Homo sapiens: one gene and its partner. The protein of the gene in region 2 purifies or fractionates together with the protein of the main gene of each other region. This does not show direct contact. Each region holds a gene or a part of one and is shown on either strand. Other genes may lie near its edges.

The links.
Region 1: the proteins of DEFB104A (region 2) and PTPRG purify together in Homo sapiens (affinity purification with mass spectrometry, with the first as the bait; one large-scale study listed by BioGRID). This does not show direct contact.

What each region holds. Positions count from the first base shown.
Region 1 is NC_000003.12:62,205,071-62,208,570, reverse strand, and holds part of PTPRG (receptor-type tyrosine-protein phosphatase gamma isoform 1 precursor), read right to left. Parts: intron 1-3,500.
Region 2 is NC_000008.11:7,834,898-7,839,536, forward strand, and holds the start of DEFB104A (beta-defensin 104 precursor), read left to right. Parts: upstream 1-1,538; 5' UTR 1,539-1,587; coding exon 1,588-1,645; intron 1,646-4,639. UniProt on the Homo sapiens protein: Has antimicrobial activity. Synergistic effects with lysozyme and DEFB103.

The DNA of each region.
Region 1 (3,500 bases), on a different chromosome or scaffold from region 2:
ATGCCGACCCCTGAAGTGGAATGTCCCCTTAGCACCTGACTCAGGGCTGAGCCAGAAGATGCAGTCAGTAAACCTTCAGCAATGAGTGTTCACATACTGAGTTTCTGAGCAAGATTCAACCTGAAAAAAGAGTTTCCCTAATTTAAGGAAACAAAAATGGAAAATCCCAGCACCAAATGATGAATTTGTAGATGATGCCCACTCTGAAATGTTTTTGTAGGGTATGCTGTACTGCATAGTACCCCCAAGAACATTTCATTGCATCAGTTGGCTTCTGGGCTCACGCTGTGGCTCCTCAGGATGGGACCACATGCTGGATTTCCATGTAGCAGACATCCAGCTGAGGGCTTTGCACTAAAGAAACGCTAGAAAAAAGCCTGGTGAAAGGGAGGGAGTACACCTAGGCCTTCAAGCCTTCTGAAAGGCTTCTCAGGAAGTTGCAACTCTAGCAATCAACACTACAGTAGAGGTTGACCACCCGCGGTTCCTACCTGGCCCAGGGATGGGTTTAGTTTGGCCTACATTTTTAAAAAGCAGAAATTGTTTTAAAAATTTGAGCTTACTTAAAAGTTGGGGGGTTCTGCACAAAAACCTGGATTTCTGGCTCACTAGGCATTCTCACTGGCAGTAATCTGTTGGAGCTGAGTGAGATGGCCCTCTTTAGAAAAGTCATGTGCTCTTTAATTTGCTGCAGTCCTTACCACTCCCTAATGTCTAACACCTGGTCCTTGTTTCTCATTAGTATTAACTGGTTTCTGTAGGTGTCTGGGTTTGCCACTTCTTCTATAGAAGGATTCCCTTCTTCTTCTTCCCTGGGAGATAATATATTAAAGCCACTACTCACAGGACTTAAAAATATGTTATGAAACACCAAAGGGATTTAAACAAGCTGTTTGGAGATACTCATAAAAATATAACAGTGTGTAACTTTACACATTATCACTCTTTTCAGAGACCAGGTATTGATTAAAGTAATTGTTTTTCCTTAATATGAAGAAAAAATAAATGTGTAACAGATTTAAAGCAAATGTACACACAAAGTCCTTAAAATAAATCACTAACATTAAAATGATGGCGATTTCATTAAAAAATAAATACCATACTGGAGGAGGCAGACAGGGCAAAGGACAGGGTGAATGGAAGTGAAGCAAGACCTGAAGGATCATTGACTGATGTGGGATTTGCTTGTTTTACCTTCAGGTCACTCACGTCCTTTACTAATCAACAGGCACATGCAGATTTCTGTGTAAACCAGGGGTTGGCAAATGACAGATTGTGGACCATATCAGACCCATCGCCTGTTTCTGCAAACAAAGTTTTAATTGAAATACTATCACATCCTCTCAGCTGTGTATTGTCTATGGTGGCTTTTGTGCTACAAGGCAGAATTAAGTAGCTGCAGCAGAGACCTGTGGCCTGCAAAACTGAAAAACATTTACTCTCTGGCCCTTAGCTGAAAAAGTTTGCTTATATCTGGCTTAAACAATCATCACCACCATTTTCAGACTTGAACTGCTTGAAATTTTCAAGGAAGTTTTTTTTAGCTTTCAGAAGTGGACCTTCTCACTTTGCTGAAGGTGATAAGGGAAAGCTCTGATTTACCAGTGTTGAGTTTCAGGAGGAGGTCCTTCTTTTTTTTTTTTTTTTTTTTTTTTTTTGAGACAGAGTCTTGCTCTGTCAGTGGTGTGATCTTCTCACTGCAGCCTCTGCCTTCCAGGCTCAAGTGATCTCCCACCTCAGCCTCCCGAGTGGCTGGACTACAGGCATGAGCCGCTGTGCCCTGCTAATTGTTGTATTTTTTCTAGAGACGGGGTTTCACCATGTTGCCCAGGCTGGTCATGAACTTCTGGATTTAAGCGATCCACCCTCCTTGGCCTCCCAAAGTCCTGGGACTACAGGAGTGAGCCACTGCACTCGGCCATCTGGAGGTCATTTTTAATGGCAGTTACTTGGGGACCAGTAGCTTTAATGTCCACAGACAATAGCAAAGGAAAGGGCTGTGGGGGGCCTCCTCACAGTCACCATCATTGTGTGGCACCTGGGCTGCTGACAGCTCCTATTTGTCAGTGACAGTGAGGGGGTCTCCACAGCCACACCACCTTCGGCATTAAGCATGATCATTAGCTCCACTTTGCAAACGAGGACACGGGACTAAGACTTACCTGAGGACCCTGAGTGAATAAGGGACAGAGCCAACTGGGTTGATCTGACTCCCAAAGCCACTCTGCCAAGATTGTAGATGCTCTCAGATTTCTGTAGGGTGGAAGCCGAGGACCTACACACCTCATACCTGGAGTAGGGAGCCCCCAAAGTTTGCCATCCATTTCTTCTCCCCTGTCTCTGGAATCTGGAACCTGACTCCAATGGCAAGAACTCATTTCCACTTACCTGGGGCGGTCCCAGTCCCTGCCTCTCTCCCATCTCTCAAACTGTAAATACTCCCAGCCTAAGCTCTCAGCAGCCACATTTTTCAGGAATGTGGTCAAACAAATGTTTAAGAGGAGCAGGCTGAGAATGCTACTTTGCCAGAGCCCATAGTCCAGAGGCTGAACACTCAAGCTTGAAAGTCAATTCCAAGTCCACCACCTGTCTTCATAGAAAACACACTGGTCCAAGCCACCATTACCACTGCCTCCTAACTGGGCTTCTTTCATCCATTCCTGCCTTCCTATATCATCTCCACGCAGAGGCCTGAGAGGTCTTTCAAAAAATCAATCAAGTAACACTGCAGCCAAGATCTACCCTGGTTTCTCATTTCTAGTAGAAGGAAATCCTCAGCGTGGTCAACGAGTACCTTTCCAGAGCACCTCCATCAATCTCTAAATCCATCCCCTCCTCTCCCCCTCACTCCCTCTGGTCTAACCACACTGGCCTGATAGCTCCTCAACTGATCCAAATTAATTCCCCACTGTAGGGTCTCTGGACCTGCTGTTCCTGCAGCCCAGAATTCCCCTCCCTGGATCTTTGCATGGCTAGCTCCTTCTTACCACTTGGCTCTCTGCTCAGAGGTCATCCTTGACCACTCAGAGCTACACTGTCCCTCCGCTCCCCAACTGTAGCAATTAAGGCTACTTAAGGGTATGTATTTGTTTACTGGCATATTCTCAAGCTCCCCTACCAGAATGCAAACCCCAAGAGAAGAGAAGTCTGTGTTACCTATGTTCTACTGCCAAAGCCTAGCCTGGTGCCTCTTATACAGTGGGCATTCCGTACATGTTTCTTCAGCGTCTTCAAATGCAAGAAATTCAACTTTTTCAAAGTAATTCCTAGAGGGAATGTCACTGTTCTTACAGAAACAGCTTCCCAAGTGGCCCCACATTTCCTTCACTCAGTTCCACAAAAGGCTACTCTGCACCTTTCCCCCAGTCACAGCTAAAGTGAGCAATACCCACAGGAGACCCCCACTTCAAAAAATTAGTTCATAGCAGCTTTAAGAGGAAAGTAATTCAAAACATGAAAATTTATTCTAAGTTGTATCTTAACATACGAGATCTCAGCTT
Region 2 (4,639 bases):
GCTCCCTCTCCCCTTCATCTTTTTGTTTTGAATTTTTATTTTATTTTATTTTTTTCAGAGACAAGGTTTTGCTGTATTGCCTACTACACTGGAGTGCAGTAGTGCCATCATAGCTTACTGCAACCTCGAACTTCCGGGCTCAAGAGACCCCCCTGCCTCAGCCTCCCAAGTAGCTGGGACTACAGGGACACACCACCATCCCTGGCTAATTTTCTTTTTGTGTAGAGTCGGGGTCTCTCTATGCCGTCCATGATGGACTCAAACCCCTGAGCTCACATGATCCTCCTCCCTCGCTCAGCCTCCCCAAGTGCTGAGATTTACAGGTGTGAGCCACTGCGCCTGGCTCCCCTTTATCTTTCACAGGCATTTCCCAATAAATTTATTTCCTTTCTAATTCCTGTTGATAAATGCTTCATGGAGCACCCAAACTGGCATAGTTTATGATTTCTGATGTTCTATTCTATTTCGTTACTGTGAAAGGAGACCTGGTTTTCCATCACATTCTCCCCTAAGTGAGAACTCTGGGGAAGACACACTGACTGCTAGATTTTGCTTAGGATGTGCAAGCAACGTATGTCTGTCAGGCTTTGTCTAATCTGTGTTCTAGAATAAGGGGAGCTTATTCGAGAATGTCAACTTTCAAGATTGGACGTTTTTACTTTCTCTAAAGTACTTCATTTTAGAGAAATGAAGTATTTTTTTTTTCTTAAAATAAAATTATCTGGTGTTTTCCCTAAGGGCAAATGCCAGGAGCATATGCTCTATATGTTTTGCCTCGGGTGGGGTTGGGGTTAAATCCAGGGAGCATACACCCCGGGTTGAGGGCCAGGCGTATGCTCTCTGGAAGGTTATGTTTTATTTGAAGCCATTGTTAGAAATACAGCATTCTCATGAATTGTCTCCTTTTAACCTCTCTTCTCATTCTTGTCCTCCTTTTCACCTAAGCCCTAAGTGAGCCTGATGCTCTGTGGTTACAATCCCACCCTTGGACAATGCCCGCCATCAAGTATTCCTTGTTGTCACTTGTCATCCTCATCCTACACTCTTTCTATCACAGAAATGTCCTGGGACCTTTCACGCATTTATGACCTCCCCACGCTCCATGCCATTCTTCTCCTTGACATTGTATGTTTGTTTCAATGTTTACTTCAGAGAGGTCTTGGGGGCTATGGACTTCAATTCCATTAGCCACATCACAATTTTCAACAAGAATCTCCTGACTGAAATGTACTGAAATGGAAGAGAAAGTCCTCTCACCAGAATTGAGGAATGTCAAGGCTGGAAGGTATCTTAGAGATCATCTAATCCAGTTCTTGCTTCAGAAACGATTCAGGGAAGCAAGTGAAGTGACTTGGACTTTACCTATGGTAATACTCTCTCCCCACCCTCAACACTGCCCAGCTGGCATTTCTGTAGCCCCAACACCTCCCCCACACTGTGCCTTGGTGAGTGTTCACCAAGGAACGCTGCATTTTGATAAGCCTCAGTAATCAAGAGCAGCCTCTGCCCATAAATACACCTGCCCTGCTCCTGCCTGGGGTGATTCCCTCCGACTTGCGTCTGCTTCTCGCCAGCAGCCCCAGCATTATGCAGAGACTTGTGCTGCTATTAGCCATTTCTCTTCTACTCTATCAAGATCTTCCAGGTAAAAAGGGACTCTCAGCTGGAAATATACACAGTTGCTGGGGATGACAGGGGGAGAAGAAAAACATTTGATTTAGAAAATAAATCCTGAAGGATGGAGTAACCTTCTTCAATCTCAGCCTTTTTTCTCTTTGCTTTCATTGGGTCCATTAGTAAAATGCAGTATGTGGCAGTCCTTGTATGCACCTTACAGCCACGAGGCTTACTAGCTCAAGGAGGAAAAAAGAAACGTAGGGATCAGGAGTCCTAGATGTCCTTGGCACCCTGGCCACACACGGTAACAATTCCTCATGGAATCCTCAGCAATGAGGACTCACTAGCCATGCTTGTTCCATTGCAGGGCAACAGCAATTATTCATTGTTGATTTTGTAGAATAAGATGCCTTCCCCCATCCTCCTCCTTCTGAACAGCTTTACTCTGCACAGAAAAGGGCGCCTACTCATCCTCCTAAATTTTGCAACTTTTCATATCAAGTCAGATGATTAGGGTTAAAGGGGATGCAGTGATTTCAGTAGGCAAGAACGTAATTTACTGACAACACAAATAGCAGGTGCCTTTGAACTCTGCTCAGGAAATTTTAGACTGAGATGTCAGCAATCTTCTGACTCCTACGTTAATCTATGTCCCCAGAAGCATGTATTTCTTAATATATTTGCAATGGATATGAGAGAGCACCTAATCTAATTCCCTTCTTTTACAAGCTGAGCAGCATTCTCTATGGTACAGTGAGAGAAAATAAGATTTTTAGAGTTGCTTAACAAGTCTAGCAGTGCTGGGACGAAACCAATTGTTTTGACTCGTAGAAGCCATCGGATCTTCTCTTCCAAGCTGCTCAGTCAATTTTATGGGGCTTTGACAGACACCCAGCACCCATCTTTTTGCCCTTCCGGGCTGTGCCTCCACTGTGATTCAGATGGGTTAATGATTTTTTTTCAGAGGGTACCTGTTTAGGTTAACTCTTCCTTTTTCTTTCTTCCCGTGTCATTTCCCAAAGACACTTCTGTGAAATTCTGCTATGGGCATGTTCCAGGTCTGTTAAAATATGATAGCAATTTATCAAAGAACAGGTTTTCTTCAACCTTTGATCCCAAGACAAAGAACTTGGGATGGAAAGCCTGGGTCAGGGATCCCTCCAGATCCCGAAGAATGCACCGCAGAGCTGGCTGCCATTATCCACACTTGGCTGCAGAGGGCTGGGTCAGACTGTCCTCTGCAGTTGAATTCTGAGAAAGACCATTAGCAGGAAGAGGATTAGGGAGGGAAGTGGCAGAAGTGGGTGAGGGTGAATGACATGCGCTGCCTGCCTCTTCTCCTGCCACCCCTGCTTTGGGTAAGTTTGGCTGTCACACACTGTCAGCCCCTCAGATACCCACAGGGACTGGGGATGGGTGCTGTCAACCAAAAATAAAATTCTAAGCCCCCTCCCCAACCATCTAAATGGACTCCCTCCTCAGCCAGGGCTCTTAAAATTTAATCTGAAAGACTGCTTCAGGCCATGAAAGGAAGTGGGGGTTGGACATGCCTCATTACACTTTCCATCATGAACATCAACACAGACTTTAAGTGTGATAAGAAACATTTTACAGCCTGTTCTCTCTGAAGCCTGCTAGCTAAAAGCATCAACTGCATGATACAACTTTGGCCTCCACAATACAACCTCTTGTCGCAACCCAAACATTCCTGTCTATTGATCCCAGGTCTTTAGACAAACTCAATCAATTGTCAACCAGAAAATGTTTAAATTTACCTATAGCCTGGAAGGCCACCTGCCACACACTCCCACTGCACCCCCACAGGCCCCCCGCCACCCCCACTTTGAATAGTCCCACCTTTCTGGACCAAACCAATGTAAATCAGCCAGGTGTAGCGGCTCACACCTGTAATCTCAGCATTTTGGGAGGCTGAGGTCTGCAGATCACTTGAGGTCAGGAGTTCGAGACTGGCCTGGCCAACACGGTGAAACCTCGTCTCTACTAAAAATACAAAAATTAGCTGGGTGTGGTGGTGCATGTCTGTAATTCCAGCTGCTCAGGAGGCGGAGGCAGGAGAATCGCTTGAACCCAAGAGGTGGAGGTTGCAGTGAGCTGAGATCGTGCCATTGCACTCTACCCTAGGCGACAGAGCAAGACTCTGTCTCAAAAAAAACCAAAAAAACAAACAAAAAAAAAAACAAAGCAAATCTTACACGTCTTGATTGATGTATTATGTCTCCCTAAAATGTATAAAACCAAGCAAGCTGTATCACAACCACCTTGGGCACATGTCCTCAGGACCTCCTGAGGTTGTGTCACAGGTGTGTCCTCAACCTTGACAAAATAAACTTTCTACATTAACTAAGACCTGAGACCTGCCTAAGATTTTCTGGGTCTGTAGAGCAGAGGAGGAAAATTGCTTATGCAAGAAAGAAACTAGTGTAGTGTAGTCTACCCTGGAATGTATTTATTGCTTAGGAAATGTTTATTACTCAGCCTTAGTGTATGGACTGCATTCTCCCTTTTGCATTCTGTTTACTGAGACTGTAAGACATACCAACTAGGTTTTTCTTCCAGCTTTGACACATAAGTTGCTGTGTGACGTCAGATTAGTCACTTTCCTTCTCTGAGCCTTCATTCCCATCTCTAAATAGATGGCCTGTGAGGGCTTGTTTGAAACTGACAGTCTAACATTTTAAAGGTTGTGTTCTCTTCCTAGTCTATTCTTCTTCTCCCCTAACGCTAAGCTTCGTTTTCCCTGAGCAAGCATGCTGTCCTCTTTTTCCTCCTCTAACTCCAGGTTGTAAAGCGACCTGCCACAGATATGTCAGAAGGCACATATCTGCTACTCAACCTCCACATACTCCCTCAGCATGATACACACTGCAGCCCACCTCACTCCTTTCTTCATTGCCTTGTACTGTGACCACAAGGGCTTGCTTTTGAATGAAGCCTACAGCAAAACAGTCTTTCCTCATCACCCGCTGTGGGGCCATTGCAAATATTAACCCCTACAATATCC